3 linked regions of the Homo sapiens genome follow. Changing the gene in region 2 together with the main gene of any one other region gives a genetic interaction. Each region holds a gene or a part of one and is shown on either strand. Other genes may lie near its edges.

Region 1 (7,829 bases), on a different chromosome or scaffold from region 2:
TTGACATACTAACTGCAACACAACCTCCTGCAACAGAATTCCCACGTGATTTGCTCAAGCCTACGGAATCAGAAACTCTATGAATCCACCCAGGGATGTCACTTTTTAACAAGGAGTGTCTTATATAATCTCAAATTTGAGAACCAACCATATAGCATACTTTTTAACAGGTATATAATGATAATTGAATTCCAAACTATAAGAGTATCATACTTTGTCAAATCCATTTCCTTATTGGTGGATACTGAAGTTGCTGCCAGATTTTTTCCTTGGTACCTAATATTTCAATAAATGTCTTCATGCACCATTGCTTTTATTTTTGTAGTATAGATTTCCCAAATGAGGATTATTGGATATAATTTTAGGGTCTAATAGATGTTCATTTTAAAGTCTAGTAGACATTGTAAGCTTACCTTCAAAAGGTTTCAAAAAGTCACATTCCAACCAGCAATATACATGAGTGCCCTTATCCTAGGATCCAACTCTAAGTATATTAGAAACTTCCTTCCAAATTGATGAGTTAAAACATTCTTTAAGGCAGGGCGCGGTGGCTCATGCCTGTAATCCTAGCACTTTGGGAGGCCAAGGTGGGCGGATCACAAGGTCAGGATTTGAGACCAGCCTGACCAATATGGTGAAACCCCATCTCTACTAAAAATACAAAAATCAGCTGGGCATGGTGGCGGGCACCTGTACTCCCAGCTACTTGGGAGGCTGAGGCAGGAGAATCACTTGAACCCAGGAGGTAGAGGTTGCAGTGAGCCGAGATCGCGCCACTGCACTTCAGCCTGGGTGACAGAGCAAGACTCTGTCTCAAAATAAATAAATAAATAAATAAATAAATAAATAAATAAATAATAAAAATAAAAAAATTCTTTATTTTTTAAGTGTACAGTATAATGTACTGATTTGGGGTGCAGTTAAAAGTTTTTTTTTCCACATTTATAAGTTGTTTGCAATTCCTCTACTTGAGGGAGTTTACAGATAGTCACCAGCTGAAAATGGCAGTATTGAGAGTGAGAGAGTATACAGCTACATAGTATCAGTTTCCTTGATACCCTTACCTTCTTCCCAGGCTCCACCCTCCTCTCAAATTTCTGCTACTCCTCACATACAGTGTTCCTGAAGCCACTGATTATCTTTCACCCTCCTGTGAGGACTCTATGTTCTCCTTTGGAATTATTTTCACTTGTTCATTTTCTTGGCCAATTTTGCTGTTTAATTTTATATCTTTTTCTTATCTATTTGATGTAACTGTGCAAACTAGATCTTTAACAATTTGCCTTACATACTGTTTTAATACAACAAATTTTAAAAGTTACTGTTTTACTTAATACTCTACTCAATTTTGAGCAAACTTCATTTGATTTTAATTATAGCAACCATTTAAAACAAGCAGCGCCATTTTAGCTTGTTGCCTTTCTGTAACTGCTTTTAGAAATTCACTTTCTTTAACAACGTGCAATTTCTTCATAATGCCATAGTAAGTTAACTGTAGAGAAGTCACTAATGAATATTATTTTACTTTATTAAATAACAGCAAGGGAAATATAAAAATTTAAATAGTTTTACATGCAACCTAAAAACTTTCCAAACTCAAAAATGGACTTTTTTTTGGAGGGGGGTAGCTTTCTCTCAAGAACTCTTATTTCAAAATCCAAATGGGATTTCAAAATACAAGCAAATAAATGTCAAAGCCTCTTGGCCTCTGCTCTGCCATTCTATGCCTGAAATCCTGCCAAAATGAAATTTTCCGTTCAAAAGGGCTGGCATTTACTAAACTGATGTTTTAAAGACATTCTCAAAAAGTAGTGGAAACTTTGTCCAGCTTTTTATGTTCCTGTCTTGTAGACAGAACAGCTGCCTTTGCAGATATTTTCCAAGATCTTACATTTTCTGAAAAACAAATTTTCAGCCCTTCCACTGTCTTCAGCAAGTGGGTCTATTGGTTTTTCCCAGTGCCAAGCAGAGAAGATAAACAACTGCCAAACTAGAAGCTAGTGTCTGAGTATCAAGGCATAGAAAGGACAGAAGAGATAGTGTTTCAGTAAGTATCAATGCAGAGAAAGGACAGAAGAGAAAGTGGGAGAAAGAAAAGAGGGTGGTTCAATCGTTCACAGTCAAGAGGGACACATTTATCTCAAAATTTTAGGCTGTTTCAACAAAACCGAGCTGTAGCGAGACTAGCTGCTTATTCACACGAGAACATCATTTTCAGTTACTATGAAGATCAAAGAGTTAAAAGATATGAGTTCGTTTAAAGAACTCAAAAGGGAAAATATGAAGCCACCGCAATACGTAGTAAAATCTGAGGCTTAACAGCGCAGCGCCTGAGAGTGCCAGTCCACTAAAGGGAGGGAGAAGGGGCGCAGAGCTTATGGGGGCCTGGGAAGGAGTGATAAGTCTTTGGAAATGGAAACTAAAGCTATCAGCCAGCGAAAACCATCAATATTCCTAAAAATATATAATACTAATAATACATAAAAGCTTTAAAAAACTAACAAGACACTGTGGGATACAAAAAAAGGTAGAAATGAAAATTACAGAATGTTAAGTGAAAAAACTGAAATCCATCTACAGTCGAACAGTTTGCACCTTTAAAAGCAATGACTTGAAGCAGCAAGCAAAAGTTCCCAGTCCTTAAGACTTTCTCCCCACTCTCAATTCTTTCTTTCCTCTAGTGCAAAAGCTGTCTAAGCAGTGCACGCCGGAATTATCCCCACGTGAGCCTTCCTTTAATTTCGGTCTTAATTTTTTTCTCTCTTGTTATTACTCCCAGACCCCAACCTCTTTTTCCTCATCTAGTATCTGTTTCAGGGACAGGACAAAGAGGAGGCAGCGAGCTGAAAAAAGTTTTGTGGTTTGGGATACTTGGGCCTTTGTTGTGTCATTTCCTCTACCCCTCCACGCCCCCAACCACGTGACCAAGAAGGGCCGGAATTTTGTGAATGGAGACGAAAGGTGGCTGTTGGGGCGGGCGGGACTCCGCCCCCTTCCCTAAAGCGGCCAATCTCCTAGCGGAGCGCTGAGGGGTCAGCAATAAACAACAATGGGCTGGGGATTTACGGCTCGTTATTGGCTGCGGGAAGAACCTCGCCGGGACCTAACCCGAAGCTCCGCCCCCTCGCGGTTACCCTGGATACCCGTCAGGCTCGGGCTGCAGAGAAGGTCTTTGGAAACTGTTGCTCAGATTACAGGCGCTGGGTTATTCCAGGAGTGCAGGGTGGTGGAGGACCCTTGTTATTGACCCCCTGCTTGGTTGCACCCTCAGATAGTACCCATGAGCTTCACTGTTCAGCCTCGGGGCCCAGGCGCTTCCTGGAATCTCTCCTTGGCCGGGGTTAAAATGCAGTTCCCGCTCAAAATGCTTATAGGTGCGCGCGTTGTGAACTCCGATTTAGTAGTTTCCGGGAATGCGCGGGGTCTGTCTTTGCTGTCCATAGTTATTGGTTGTTTTCCCAGTAATAAGTGTTGATTGTTTGTTTGTTTGCTTCTTTTTTAAGTAGATCTTTCTCCTGCCCAGGTCCGGGGTTGAGTGCTGTGCGCTCTTACACTCCATTTTAATGTGTCTCCATAACGTTCTATTTAAGGAAGGAAACTTTCAAATAGAAATTGAGAACTGCAGCACGTTTCCTAACGGGCGGAACAGCTGCCGGAAACGTCTTTTGGTCACTAGTTCTGGTCACAAATGAATTTCAACAGCATTGAGTCCCTGGTCCTATCCCCGCGGCCTCCCGTCCGCTGTTGGACACTGGCTCCTTAAAGTGACGCTTTACTGTTCTGAGTCCCATAGGAGGATCAGGGCAAGTGGCTTCAGAGATGCAGCCCTCACTGCTTAACGTCCTAGTTATTGTCCTTGAAACCCGAGCCATCTCACCGCTCGCCCCCAACCCTGGGCTCTGGCTGTTTAAAAGCTGGAGAGGAAGTGAAAGCGTCAAGTACAGTAAGTGACACCCTCCGCCTCCGTGTATACATAACAAAAGCTCAGGAAACGTGCGGGTTCTAGGATATACGAGCAACCCCAAGCACTCCCTCCTCCTCCCCACAGCCACAGTGGACTGGAAGTACCTTTTCCCAGTGCACACGTAGGGACCATTTTGACTTATACTTTTTCACCTAGCTTGCTCTGTTGTCCTCCCATCACAACCTCTGCTAATCAGCAATTCTGCATCTCCTAGGTGCCTTCCTTATAGATTCTTTATGTTTCTGTCCCACGAACGATAGGATCTAATTTTAGTTGAGGATGACTGTTTAAAAAATGTTTCGATAAACCATAATGGTGATGGTGGGTTTTGAAAAACGGGAAAATAAATTGGGCCAAAAGCTGAGTGGGAATGAGGATAGAGAGCGAGGTGAGCTCCTAGTCAGGGCAAGAGTAGAGAGGTTGGAGATCCTGAGGGGAGGGCAGCTGAATAAGGCGGTACGGGCTTTGTGGATCGCGGCTCTAAGGGTATACCAGAACCGCACAACAGTACTTTAAGGAAACCAGCCCAATAGTGGACCTAACACCCCAATAATGGGAACTGGCGACTCGAAACACACGGTTTCAGTATCCCCAGGCGCCTTAACAATAAGCAGCGGGTTACAGAGGAAATCGAGTCTCTCCGTGGCGCTTCCAGGCTGAGGACCCAGCGCCTACCGGCCGAGCACCCCCTAGGGCAGAGGGGCGAGGGAGACCCGCGGGAAGGGGCAGCAAGCCGCCTGATTGACAGCCCGAAATCTGATCTTGTGAAAGAGACGCGGAGCCAATGGGAGGCAGCGATCCATCAGTTTGGATTGGAGGCCCCTGGAGGAGAAGTAGAGGAAAAACCACCGAATTGAGCTCTGTCAGAGGCGCTTTCGGCTTCCAAGGGGGAAGTGCTGGGCTATAATTAATGTTTTTATTAAATTTGGAGGGAAGTTTTTGCAGCCTTTCGCCTAGCGTGGCCTTCAGGTGGGTCTTTCCAACAACTTTTTATGTCTCTCCAGATAATTGCATGGTTGTGGGTCGCAAAAACTATCCTGATGAAAGAGGTGTCTCCGTCTCTTTAGTCCCGTTAGGTGCAAAGCAAGTCTCGTTGATCGCCATTGCTAGTTTTGCACACGTTTGCGAATCAGAGCTGCCCGGGGTACACCGACCGCGCAGGGAAACATCGAGAGTGTAAATAAATACATCGCCTCTTGTTCGGATTTTTGCTACTACCGAAAATATGTAAATTGTGAACTCTGTTGGCTCTCTTTGGATCCAGGTGAAGGAGGCGGTGTAGGGAGGGTTATTTTTGTGAATGGGACTGTCGGAGGGTAATTAGCTATGCAAATTCAAGAGCTTCATTCATGATTTTTTTTTAAGCCTAAAAGCCATCTTGTTCCCCTCTAGGTTGATAGAAGTCCAGATCCTGAGGAAATCTCCAGCTAAATGCTCAAAATATAAAATACTGAGCTGAGATTTGCGAAGAGCAGCAGCATGGATGGATTTTATGACCAGCAAGTGCCTTACATGGTCACCAATGTGAGTGATCAGTTTGAAAGTTGCTGTTTATAAACTTGACTCCGTCGGGGGTGGGGAGAGGGAGAAAATGAGAAGGGAGGGGGCACGGGGGTTGGGATTGCAGATACTTATCTGCTTTGTTGCCACTGTAGGGCGACTCTGCTTCTAGAAGCCCAGTCTTCAAAATGAGCTTACCTTTCAGTGATTTGGATAAGGCATAGTTTTGTTTTTAAGACCCCTTTTTCTGATTAAAGTGCCCAACATGAGTGGAAGAGGAGATGGAGGGCAGCAGCAGCTGCTGCACTCAAAGTTTTTGGCTGGGTTTGTCTGCCACATTGAAAAGAATGAAGTTGAGACAAATGCTGACACTTTTTGTTTATATGGGGTGTTTTTGTTTCTTTTTTTTTTCTCATTTTCTCTTTTTTTTTTTTTTCATTTCTCTACTCTTTTTGCTTTTTTTTTTTGTGGGGGTGGGGTGGGGAGGAGGGGCTGTCCAAGAGAGAATAAAACCCACTGTTTTAATCTAGCATTGAACCAGCCTAAAAACAACTTTAAGTGTAAATGCTTCAGGTTGTTTTGATGCTGAGATACCATGAATATATGATTGATAAATAGTAATGTGCTAAGATCGGCACTGGGAAGCAACTCTCCCTGCCTGCTTAACATAAGCTTTCACTGTCAAATAAGTGAGAAAATGAATATTAGAGTTGATACTATGGACTTCTATTTTTCTATTCAGAGAAGATCCATTAGACTTATGTATGCATGTCTGTGTGTGTGTGTGTGCGCGCGCGTGTGCGTGTGTGTGATCTGAGGTTTACATTCTTTTAAAGGATTTTATCTTTCCCTTTGTAGAGTCAGCGTGGGAGAAATTGTAACGAGAAACCAACAAATGTCAGGAAAAGAAAATTCATTAACAGAGATCTGGCTCATGATTCAGAAGGTGAGGTTTGATTTTGGGCTGAATCCCCATTTTTTTACCTACACTCTCCACCCTGCTAAAAGAAAAGGAGCACTTCAGTCTTATCTTAAAAATAATAAACTTTGAAATTACTGAATCTAACTAAGACTTTAACTTGGAACGATTTACATAATGCGGCAGTTTGCATGGGAGACTATTTTATGGTCCTATCACAAAGTAATGAAAGAAGGAAATAAAAACTTCTCAATGACAACCTTCTTTTAATCATTGTTTTGTGTTTAAATACCTTTGTCCATGGGGCATATAACTCACCCCATTCACTAAGATAACAATTTAAAAATATCCAATACAGTGGGACAAATTCAGCAGCTATGTACACTGCTTACTTTTTTCTTTCTCCTTTATTACAAGTTAAACAGTATTAGTGATTGTTTGGTTTCCCACCTCCTTTACACTAAAACCATCTACTATTAACAGAATTTTCAAGGGTGATTTTGATGACTAAATTGTGAGGTCATAATACCTTGTTTATCGACCATAATGTGTTCACTGAATCATACTTAAGGCCTCCTTAATAATTATAATACTATTTGGGAAATTAGTTTGCAGATTCTTTTTATGAACTGTTGCTAGGATGTCAGTATGTTACAAATTATTTTAGCCATATGAGGACATTCATAATAAACTTAATATACTTAGATTTAATTATCAAAGTTTAGTTGGCAATTTTAATTAGATATACTGAATTCTGAAACTTCCTCAAATCTTCATACCATTTAAATACCTCCCTCTCTCCCTCCCTAACATGACCATATAGTTTAGAACTTGATGAGAACCTGGTGCCAAAGAATTATCTTTCTGACTTTTATAAACCTATTAATGTAGAAATTTTCCTCTAAAAACTTGTATTTGAAGTGGTTTCTTTTAGTTTCGAGGTATTGAAGTTGAAAACATAATACTTTGACAGTTGTACCATGTACCATTATATATTTTATGTAAGATTCAGAAGATATAAATAAAATGCTTTTCAGTCTTTCTAATCTTCCCCCTACTACTATTTTAGCAAGAGTTAAATATATTTAAGGAAGATTTCAGTGAACAGACACATATTCACCTCAGCCTTTTTGTGAATTCTGGTATCCCTGAGCTTATTTATTAAGCTGTTTGTTAAAAAGAAGAAAAGATGATTGACTTTATTCTTTAGTTGACTAAAATAATTTCTTAAAGAGTTGCTTAATAGGCATGAAAAGTAGGCAGTATTATTGAGATATTTAAGTTATGCCTCTTTTTTTTATTTTTATGTTGACTGCGTCTCTTGAAATTAAATTTATATTTAATACCAATTTCATGACAAATATTTCCATTTAATGAAGATTAAAGATTTGCAAATCTTATGTTTATGTCTTTGACTTGTTTTTTAGAACTCTTTCAAGATCTAAG
Region 2 (7,030 bases):
TAACACCGTTTTCTGTGTACAGTGCAGAATTGCTAACTCGGCGGTGTTTACAGCAGGTTGCTTGAAATGCTGCGTCTTGCGTGACTGGAAGTCCCTACCCATCGAACGGCAGCTGCCTCACACCTGCTGCGGCTCAGGTGGACCACGCCGAGTCAGATAAGCGTCATGCAACCCAGTTTTGCTTTTTGTGCTCCAGCTTCCTTCGTTGAGGAGAGTTTGAGTTCTCTGATCAGGACTCTGCCTGTCATTGCTGTTCTCTGACTTCAGATGAGGTCACAATCTGCCCCTGGCTTATGCAGGGAGTGAGGCGTGGTCCCCGGGTGTCCCTGTCACGTGCAGGGTGAGTGAGGCGTTGCCCCCAGGTGTCCCTGTCACGTGTAGGGTGAGTGAGGCGCGGCCCCCGGGTGTCCCTGTCCCGTGCAGCGTGATTGAGGTGTGGCCCCCGGGTGTCCCTGTCCCGTGCAGGGTGAGTGAGGCACTGTCCCCGGGTGTCCCTGTCACGTGCAGGGTGAGTGAGGCGCGGTCCCCGGGTGTCCCTGTCACGTGTAGGGTGAGTGAGGCACTGTCCCCGGGTGTCCCTCTCAGGTGTAGGGTGAGTGAGGCGCCGTCCCCGGGTGTCCCTGTCACGTGTAGGGTGAGTGAGGCGTGGTCCCCGGGTGTCCCTGTCCCGTGCAGGGTGAGTGAGGCGCTGTCCCCGGGTGTCCCTGTCACGTGCAGGGTGAGTGAGGCGCGGTCCCCGGGTGTCCCTGTCACGTGTAGGGTGAGTGAGGCACCGTCCCTGGGTGTCCCTCCCAGGTGTAGGGTGAGTGAGGCGCTGTCCCCGGGTGTCCCTCTCAGGTGTAGGGTGAGTGAGGCGCGGCCCCAGGTGTCCCTGTCACGTGTAGGGTGAGTGAGGCACCGTCCCTGGGTGTCCCTCCCAGGTATAGGGTGAGTGAGGCACTGTCCCCGGGTGTCCCTGTCACGTGCAGGGTGAGTGAGGCGCGGTCCCCAGGTGTCCCTGTCACGTGTAGGGTGAGTGAGGCACTGTCCCCGGGTGTCCCTGTCCCGTGCAGGGTGAGTGAGGCGCGGTCCCCAGGTGTCCCTGTCCCGTGCAGGGTGAGTGAGGCGCCGTCCCCGGGTGTCCCTGTCACGTGCAGGGTGAGTGAGGCACGGCCCCCGGGTGTCCCTGTCACGTGCAGGGTGAGTGAGGCGCGGCCCCCGGGTGTCCCTGTCACGTGCAGGGTGAGTGAGGCGCGGCCCCCGGGTGTCCCTGTCACGTGCAGGGTGAGTGAGGCGCGGTCCCCGGGTGTCCCTGTCACGTGCAGGGTGAGTGAGGCGCGGTCCCCGGGTGTCCCTGTCACGTGCAGGGTGAGTGAGGCGCGGTCCCCGGGTGTCCCTGTCACGTGCAGGGTGAGTGAGGCACGGTCCCCGGGTGTCCCTGTCCCGTGTAGGGTGAGTGAGGCACTGTCCCCGGGTGTCCCTGTCACGTTCAGGGTGAGTGAGGCGCGGTCCCCGGGTGTCCCTGTCACGTGTAGGGTGAGTGAGGCACCGTCCCCGGGTGTCCCTGTCACGTGCAGGGTGAGTGAGGCGCTGTCCCCGGGTGTCCCTGTCACGTGCAGGGTGATTGACGCGAGGCCCCCGGGTGTCCCTGTCACGTGCAGGGTGAGTGAGGCGCCGTCCCCGCGTGTCCCTGTCACGTGCAGGGTGAGTGAGGCGCCGTCCCCGGGTGTCCCTGTCACGTGTAGGGTGAGTGAGGTGCCGTCCCCGGGTGTCCCTGTCACGTGTAGGGTGAGTGAGGCGCCGTCCCCGGGTGTCCCTGTCACGTTCAGGGTGAGTGAGGCACGGCCCCCGGGTGTCCCTGTCACGTGTAGGGTGAGTGAGGCGCGGTCCCCGGGTGTCACTGTCACGTGTAGGGTGAGTGAGGCACTGTCCCCGGGTGTCCCTGTCACGTGTAGGGTGAGTGAGGCGCGGCCCCCGGGTGTCCCTGTCACGTGCAGGGTGAGTGAGGCGCGGCCCCCGGGTGTCCCTGTCACGTGTAGGGTGAGTGAGGCGCGGCCCCCGGGTGTCCCTGTCACGTGCAGGGTGAGTGAGGCGCGGCCCCCGGGTGTCCCTGTCACGTGCAGGGTGAGTGAGGCGCGGCCCCCGGGTGTCCCTGTCACGTGCAGGGTGAGTGAGGCACGGCCCCCGGGTGTCCCTGTCACGTGCAGGGTGAGTGAGGCGCGGCCCCCGGGTGTCCCTGTCACTTGCAGGGTGAGTGAGGCACTGTCCCCGGGTGTCCCTGTCACGTTCAGGGTGAGTGAGGCGCGGTCCCCGGGTGTCCCTGTCACGTGTAGGGTGAATGAGGCACTGTCCCCGGGTGTCCCTGTCACGTGCAGGGTGAGTGAGGCGCCGTCCCCGGGTGTCCCTGTCACGTGCAGGGTGATTGACGCGAGGCCCCCGGGTGTCCCTGTCACGTGCAGGGTGAGTGAGGCGCCGTCCCCGCGTGTCCCTGTCACGTGCAGGGTGAGTGAGGCGCCGTCCCCGGGTGTCCCTGTCACGTGTAGGGTGAGTGAGGCGCCGTCCCCGGGTGTCCCTGTCACGTGTAGGGTGAGTGAGGCGCCGTCCCCGGGTGTCCCTGTCACGTGTAGGGTGAGTGAGGCGCCGTCCCCGGGTGTCCCTGTCACGTGTAGGGTGAGTGAGGCGCCGTCCCCGGGTGTCCCTGTCACGTGCAGGGTGAGTGAGGCCCCGTCCCCGGGTGTCCCTGTCACGTGTAGGGTGAGTGAGGCACTGTCCCCGGGTGTCTCTGTCACGTGTAGGGTGAGTGAGGCGCCGTCCCTGGGTGTCCCTCTCAGGTGTAGGGTGAGTGAGGCGCCATCCCCGGGTGTCCCTGTCACGTGTAGGGTGAGTGAGGCGCCGTCCCCGGGTGTCCCTGTCACGTGTAGGGTGAGTGAGTTGCGGCCCCCGGGTGTCCCTCTCAGGTGCAGGGTGAGTGAGGCGCTGTCCCTGGGTGTCCCTGTCTCGTGTAGGGTGAGTGAGGCTCTGTCCCCAGGTGTCCTTGGCGTTTGCTCACTTGAGCTTGCTCCTGAATGTTTGCTCTTTCTATAGCCACAGCTGCGCCGGTTGCCCATTGCCTGGGTAGATGGTGCAGGCGCAGTGCTGGTCCCCAAGCCTATCTTTTCTGATGCTCGGCTCTTCTTGGTCACCTCTCCGTTCCATTTTGCTACGGGGACACGGGACTGCAGGCTCTCGCCTCCCGCGTGCCAGGCACTGCAGCCACAGCTTCAGGTCCGCTTGCCTCTGTTGGGCCTGGCTTGCTCACCACGTGCCCGCCACATGCATGCTGCCAATACTCCTCTCCCAGCTTGTCTCATGCCGAGGCTGGACTCTGGGCTGCCTGTGTCTGCTGCCACGTGTTGCTGGAGACATCCCAGAAAGGGTTCTCTGTGCCCTGAAGGAAAGCAAGTCACCCCAGCCCCCTCACTTGTCCTGTTTTCTCCCAAGCTGCCCCTCTGCTTGGCCCCCTTGGGTGGGTGGCAACGCTTGTCACCTTATTCTGGGCACCTGCCGCTCATTGCTTAGGCTGGGCTCTGCCTCCAGTCGCCCCCTCACATGGATTGACGTCCAGCCACAGGTTGGAGTGTCTCTGTCTGTCTCCTGCTCTGAGACCCACGTGGAGGGCCGGTGTCTCCGCCAGCCTTCGTCAGACTTCCCTCTTGGGTCTTAGTTTTGAATTTCACTGATTTACCTCTGACGTTTCTATCTCTCCATTGTATGCTTTTTCTTGGTTTATTCTTTCATTCCTTTTCTAGCTTCTTAGTTTAGTCATGCCTTTCCCTCTAAGTGCTGCCTTACCTGCACCCTGTGTTTTGATGTGAAGTAATCTCAACATCAGCCACTTTCAAGTGTTCTTAAAATACTTCAAAGTGTTAATACTTCTTTTAAGTATTCTTATTCTGTGATTTTTTTCTTTGTGCACGCTGTGTTTTGACGTGAAATCATTTTGATATCAGTGACTTTTAAGTATTCTTTAGCTTATTCTGTGATTTCTTTGAGCAGTGAGTTATTTGAACACTGTTTATGTTCAAGATATGTAGAGTATCAAGATACGTAGAGTATTTTAAGTTATCATTTTATTATTGATTTCTAACTCAGTTGTGTAGTGGTCTGTATAATACCAATTATTTGAAGTTTGCGGAGCCTTGCTTTGTGATCTAGTGTGTGCATGGTTTCCAGAACTGTCCATTGTAAATTTGACATCCTGTCAATAGTGGGCATGCATGTTCACTATATCCAGCTTATTAAGGTCCAGTGCAAAGCTTCTGTCTCCTTCTAGATGCATGAAATTCCAAGAAGGAGGCCATAGTCCCTCACCTGGGGGATGGGTCTGTTCATTTCTTCTCGTTTGGTAGCATTTATGTGAGGCATTGTTAGGTGCATGCACGTGGTAGAATTTTTATCTTCCTGATGAGTGAATCTTTTGGAGACTTCTATGTCTCTAGTAATCTAGTAATTCTTTTTTTAAATTGCTCTTAGTACTGCCACACTGGGCTTCTTTTGATTAGTATTTTCCTGCTGTGTCTGTTTTCTGCCTTTAATTTATATATATATATATATATTTTTTTTTTTTGAGACAGAGTCTTGGTCTGTCGCCCAGGGTGAGTGCAGTGGTGTGATCACAGGTCAGTGTAACTTTTACCTTCTGGCCTGAGCCGTCCTCTCACCTCAGCCTCCTGAATAGCTGGAACTGCAGACACGCACCGCTACACCTGGCTAATTTTTAAATTTTTTCTGGAGACAGGGTCTTGCTGTGTTGCCCAGGCTGGTCTCAAACTCTTGGACTCAAGGGATCCATCTACCTCGGCTTCCCAAAGTGCTGAATTACAGGCATGAGCCACCATGTCTGGCCTAATTTTCAACACTTTTATATTCTTATAGTGTGGGTATGTCCTGTTAACAGCATGTAGGTGAATTTCCAATCCAGTCTGACAGTCGTTGTTTAACTGGATAACCTGATTTATTTTCATTTTTTTGTCACTAGAGACCCGCCTGGTGCACTCTGATTCTCCACTTGCCTGTTGCATGTCCTCGTTCCCTTGTTTCTCACCACCTCTTGGGTTGCCATGTGCGTTTCCTGCCGAGTGTGTGTTGATCCTCTCGTTGCCTCCTGGTCACTGGGCATTTGCTTTTATTTCTCTTTGCTTAGTGTTACCCCCTGATCTTTTTATTGTCGTTGTTTGCTTTTGTTTATTGAGACAGTCTCACTCTGTCACCCAGGCTGGAGTGTAATGGCACAATCTCGGCTCACTGCAACCTCTGCCTCCTCGGTTCAAGCAGTTCTCATTCCTCAACCTCATGAGTAGCTGGGATTACAGGCGCCCACCACCACGCCTGGCTAATTTTTGTATTTTTAGTAGAGATAGGCTTTCACCATGTTGGCCAGGCTGGTCTCAAACTCCTGACCTCAAGTGATCTGCCCGCCTTGGCCTCCCACAGTGCTGGGATTACAGGTGCAAGCCACCGTGCCCGGCATACCTTGATCTTTTAAAATGAAGTCTGAAACATTGCTACCCTTGTCCTGAGCAATAAGACCCTTAGTGTATTTTAGCTCTGGCCACCCCCCAGCCTGTGTGCTGTTTTCCCTGCTGACTTAGTTCTATCTCAGGCATCTTGACACCCCCACAAGCTAAGCATTATTAATATTGTTTTCCGTGTTGAGTGTTTCTGTAGCTTTGCCCCCGCCCTGCTTTTCCTCCTTTGTTCCCCGTCTGTCTTCTGTCTCAGGCCCGCCGTCTGGGGTCCCCTTCCTTGTCCTTTGCGTGGTTCTTCTGTCTTGTTATTGCTGGTAAACCCCAGCTTTACCTGTGCTGGCCTCCATGGCATCTAGCGACGTCCGGGGACCTCTGCTTATGATGCACAGATGAAGATGTGGAGACTCACGAGGAGGGCGGTCATCTTGGCCCGTGAGTGTCTGGAGCACCACGTGGCCAGCGTTCCTTAGCCAGTGAGTGACAGCAACGTCCGCTCGGCCTGGGTTCAGCCTGGAAAACCCCAGGCATGTCGGGGTCTGGTGGCTCCGCGGTGTCGAGTTTGAAATCGCGCAAACCTGCGGTGTGGCGCCAGCTCTGACGGTGCTGCCTGGCGGGGGAGTGTCTGCTTCCTCCCTTCTGCTTGGGAACCAGGACAAAGGATGAGGCTCCGAGCCGTTGTCGCCCAACAGGAGCATGACGTGAGCCATGTGGATAATTTTAAAATTTCTAGGCTGGGCGCGGTGGCTCACGCCTGTAATCCCAGCACTTTGGGAGGCCAAGGCGGGTGGATCACGAGGTCAGGAGGTCGAGACCATCCTGGCCAACATGATGAAACCCCATCTGTACTAAAAACACAAAAATTAGCTGGGCGTGGTGGCGGGTGCCTGTAATCCCAGCTACTCGGGAGGCTGAGGCAGGAGAATTGCTTGAACCTGGGAGTTGGAAGTTGCAGTGAGCCGACATTGCACCACTGCACTCCAGCCTGGCAACACAGCGAGACTCTGTCTCAAAAAAAAAAAAAAAAAAAAAAATTCTAGTAGCCACATTAAAAAAGTAAAAAAGAAAAGGTGAAATTAATGTAATAATAGATTTTACTGAAGCCCAGCATGTCCACACCTCATCATTTTAGGGTGTTATTGGTGGGAGCATCACTCACAGGACATTTGACATTTTTTGAGCTTTGTCTGCGGGATCCCGTGTGTAGGTCCCGTGCGTGGCCATCTCGGCCTGGACCTGCTGGGCTTCCCATGGCCATGGCTGTTGTACCAGATGGTGCAGGTCCGGGATGAGGTCGCCAGGCCCTCAGTGAGCTGGATGTGCAGTGTCCGGATGGTGCACGTCTGGGATGAGGTCGCCAGGCCCTGCTGTGAGCTGGATGTGTGGTGTCTGGATGGTGCAGGTCAGGGGTGAGGTCTCCAGGCCCTCGGTGAGCTGGAGGTATGGAGTCCGGATGATGCAGGTCCGGGGTGAGGTCGCCAGGCCCTGCTGTGAGCTGGATGTGTGGTGTCTGGATGGTGCAGGTCAGGGGTGAGGTCTCCAGGCCC
Region 3 (3,537 bases), on a different chromosome or scaffold from region 2:
TGTAGGGGCCTACACCTTCTGAGGAGCAGGAGGGAGCCACCCTCCCTGCAGCTACCCTAGCTGAGGAGCCTGTTGTGAGGGGCAGAATGAGAAAGGCAATAAAGGGAGAAAGAAAGTCCTGGTGGCTGAGGTGGGCGGGTCACACTGCAGGAAGCCTCAGGCTGGGGCAGGGTGGCACTTGGGGGGGCAGGCCAAGTTCACCTAAATGGGGGTCTCTATATGTTCAGGCCCAGGGGCCCCCATTGACAGGAGCTGGGAGCTCTGCACCACGAGCTTCAGTCACCCCGAGAGGAGAGGAGGTAACGAGGAGGGCGGACTCCAGGCCCCGGCCCAGAGATTTGGACTTGGCTGGCTTGCAGGGGTCCTAAGAAACTCCACTCTGGACAGCGCCAGGAGGCCCTGGGTTCCATTCCTAACTCTGCCTCAAACTGTACATTTGGATAAGCCCTAGTAGTTCCCTGGGCCTGTTTTTCTATAAAACGAGGCAACTGGACTGTTAGTGGTTTTCAATCTTTTCTTTTAGGAAGTTTTATTTATTTTTATTATTTTTATTTTCCCAATGAGCCCTCTGCACTCCTAAGGAAATTTTATTTGATGAGGACCAACTGGTGACATAAAATAGATTCCAAGCTGCAATGCCCCACTGACTCCATCTCCCTGACCAGGGAATTCCAGGTGCTAAGCAGCTTTGTTTAAAAACCACTGGACCAGATGGTATCCCTGGTTCCTGCGTATTTCACAAGGTCCCCAGGGCTAGGCATCTTCTACATGACACATATGGCTGCAAACACTTAGATTCTAATTGTACCCCAAAAGATGTTGTTAAAAGGCTGGCTAGCCTGGGTTGGGGGACAGACGGGGGCTGGGGGCTGTTTCACGGCATAAGCTCAGGTCAAGGGGCCGTAGCTGCAGTAGAGCTGGGATAAGGTCCTGCTCAGAGCAGGCCCCAGATTCCTGCAGGAAGAGAGGCAGCGAGGGTCACGCCCTGGGCCTAGGGCAGCCCCAGTCCCTGCCACTCCCTCCAGGTTCCGTCTCTTGCCCTCACCTCTGTAGACGCCCACACTTAATGGTGCTCAGCAGTGTCTCTTGTTCCTTGGGGGTGGCACAGGCATCATAGGCGGCCAGGAGGCTGGGGGGCAGGGGTTTGAGTTTCTGAGGCTGACAGTGGCCCACTCTGGGCCAGCACCATGAGGGGCCAGGCAGAGGGGTCAGCATGGGATGGAAGAGTTGGGACACTGCCCCACTTCCTGAGCTTGGCACTCAAGGCCCCATGCCAGCCGGGCTGTCCTCCCTCCCTGTGGGAACTCTGGGGCAAAACCAGCAAAGGCTCCAAACCTTCACCCTCACTCCCCTTAATGGCCCAACCCCTTCTCCAGGAAGCCTCTTCTCCACCAGGTGGGACGTCTCCCTCCCTCCTGTGGCCTCCACTACCTGGGACACTATGTGGGCCTGCTGGCTTCCTCCCCACTTGACCTCCACGAGCACCCTGGGATCTGTCTATCTCTGGTCTGCAGAGCCCACACAAGGCCAGGCCCCCTCCACGAAGCATGGATTAAGGTGAATTCCATGCATGGAGGGCAGGGGCTGAGGACACCTAAGGGCCCTTTAGGGCCTACCTGGCAGGGGTGCTGTATCGATCCACCAGGGCTGCTGCCTTCTCCCCACTCACTCCGCGCACCTGCATCAGCTGCCGGGCAAACACTTCTCGCACCGACTGGGCCTGGGTTCGGGAAAGGGCTGGATCAGTGGGGGTCTGGGCCAGGCCATGTCTGAGAAGCTAGGCAGAGACAGTACCTTATTCTTGATGGCTCCTGCGTTGAAGTCACTGAAGGTGAGGAGTGAGCAGAGAGGGTTTGGAGAGGTCATGGCCCCTGATTCAGGGTTCCCAGGGGTTCCCCAGGGGCGGCTGCGTAGGGTGTGGCCCTGAGGGAAGAAGGGACTGAGGCCAGGCTGGAGCTCGAAGGAACAACTCCAGCCAGCCCCTGCCCAGTCCTCAGCCTTGGGGGGCCAGCCTGAGAAATGGGGATCTCACCCACCTTGCTTCTTTTGGGGATGCACAGGGCCCAGGCAAGGTGAATTCCTTGTGGGCTCTGTCCCGACACTGGGAAAGGGGCCTCTGCTCACCTGGTAGAGTCTCTGCAGGCCCCGCGTCAAGAGGGCCAGGTAGGCGGCTGACTCCTTAATGTCTGCTGTGCGCTTCACAAAAAAGCCATCAATGACCTGGGGAAGAGGACCCAAGAGAGGGAAGGTGGCTCCTGGCCTAGACCATGAACCATGGACCACAGGGGCCCCTGCCTGCCTGCCTGGCCCTGCCCTCCCAGCTCACCTGAGTGTTGGTGACAGCCTGCAGCAGTGTGCTCTCAGGAAGGCTGAGGTTGTGGACGGAACCATGCTCTTCCACCAGGTATACCCGGCGCTCCAGACCACAGCGCTTCAGCCGGAACTAGGGAAGTGTACAGAGTGGACAGGGAGGGTCAGGCTGGATGACCACATGCCTGGGCATCCATGATGTCACACTCAAAATGGTGCCGGGACCCTGTTCCCACCAGTTAGCCTCTGCATCCTCCCTAGCCTCTCCACCTGCCTCACAGGGGCCTCCGCAGCTTTGCTCATGCTGACACTCTTGTCTAGAAAGCCTTTTCTCCATCTCTCAACACTGCCCATCCTTCAAGCCTCCCCTGGGCCGGCACATGGCCTCTGTGACTAGGGGTCCACCCAGCAGCAAGTACCAAGGTACAGCCTCTGTATTTCCACTCCTGGAGGTTTATGCCTTGTTTATCCAAGACTGCAGGGGCTGGGTACCCAAGAGGTCTTTAAAATGCTCCTGACCTCAGCCCAAGAATGCAGGTACCTGGCTTCCTACTGTGCGCCTGGATGGGCCTGTGGGGGTCTGATCCTGGAGCAGCCACAGGGTGGGTGTGGCTGGATTCCAAAGGGCTCTGCCTCAAGGAGGCTGCCAGAAGTGCCCCTGGATTGCTCTGGGCTGAAAACGGGGCTTCGGAGCAGGCAGGGAAGCCTGGCAAAGCCAGCAAAATTACCTTCTGCTCCCGGAAGCGGCCGTCGATGATGCTGCTGCAAAGGTCATCCAGTCGCTTGCGCTCCACAATGTGATCCAGTACCAACTCCCCAGGGTTTGCTGCTGACAAGCCAGCCGTTAGCTTGCGATCCCCTACCCACCAGGCCCTGCCCCTGGTGCCAGCCTGTCCACGGCCCTTCACCTGGGTCTCTAGGATTGGTCTCCTGGGCCACCCACACAAAATCTCCAACGTGCAGCTTGCGCACCGTGTGGGTCACGTGCAGCCGCTGTAGCTCTCGGAGCAGCTCCGGCCTGTGCCCGCCCCTGGAGTGGCAAGGAGGGAAGCCTAGATCAGAGCAGGGCAGTGCCTACCCCCCAGCCTCCTCTGATCATCTCCCTCGTTTCTCCCCACCTCACTCACCCCCGGGTCTCGCCAATGTCCACACACAACAGCACCCTGTACTCTCCAGGCCTCAGCTCCAGTGGCTGCTGCTGGACCCCTGCTTCACTGGCACTAAGTG

Evidence for each region. A genetic interaction does not mean that the proteins touch.
Region 1: of TERT (region 2) and ETV1, extra expression of one rescues a mutant of the other (dosage rescue), as found in Homo sapiens cells (one study listed by BioGRID).
Region 3: of TERT (region 2) and MUS81, a change in one rescues a mutant of the other (synthetic rescue), as found in Homo sapiens cells (one study listed by BioGRID).

The regions. Positions count from the first base shown.
Region 1 is NC_000007.14:13,986,667-13,994,495, reverse strand, and holds the start of ETV1 (ETS translocation variant 1), read left to right. Parts: upstream 1-4,829; 5' UTR 4,830-4,933; intron 4,934-5,031; 5' UTR 5,032-5,228; intron 5,229-5,356; 5' UTR 5,357-5,443; coding exon 5,444-5,488; intron 5,489-5,612; exon of another isoform or gene 5,613-5,652; coding exon of another isoform or gene 5,653-5,682; exon of another isoform or gene 5,683-5,729; coding exon of another isoform or gene 5,730-5,816; intron 5,817-6,322; coding exon 6,323-6,410; intron 6,411-7,810; coding exon 7,811-7,829. UniProt on the Homo sapiens protein: Transcriptional activator that binds to DNA sequences containing the consensus pentanucleotide 5'-CGGA[AT]-3'. Required for olfactory dopaminergic neuron differentiation; may directly activate expression of tyrosine hydroxylase (TH).
Region 2 is NC_000005.10:1,285,053-1,292,082, reverse strand, and holds part of TERT (telomerase reverse transcriptase), read left to right. Parts: intron 1-7,030. UniProt on the Homo sapiens protein: Telomerase is a ribonucleoprotein enzyme essential for the replication of chromosome termini in most eukaryotes. Active in progenitor and cancer cells. Inactive, or very low activity, in normal somatic cells.
Region 3 is NC_000011.10:65,863,403-65,866,939, reverse strand, and holds the end of MUS81 (structure-specific endonuclease subunit MUS81), read right to left. Parts: intron 3,531-3,537; coding exon 3,438-3,530; intron 3,363-3,437; coding exon of another isoform or gene 3,341-3,362; coding exon 3,219-3,340; intron 3,140-3,218; coding exon of another isoform or gene 3,137-3,139; coding exon 3,039-3,136; intron 2,444-3,038; coding exon 2,327-2,443; intron 2,221-2,326; coding exon 2,125-2,220; intron 1,924-2,124; coding exon 1,795-1,923; exon of another isoform or gene 1,794-1,794; intron 1,721-1,793; coding exon 1,617-1,720; intron 1,130-1,616; coding exon 1,046-1,129; intron 955-1,045; coding exon 888-954; 3' UTR 501-887; downstream 1-500. Other genes in the region: EFEMP2 (EGF-containing fibulin-like extracellular matrix protein 2 precursor), read left to right, coding at 1-22. UniProt on the Homo sapiens protein: Catalytic subunit of two functionally distinct, structure-specific, heterodimeric DNA endonucleases MUS81-EME1 and MUS81-EME2 that are involved in the maintenance of genome stability.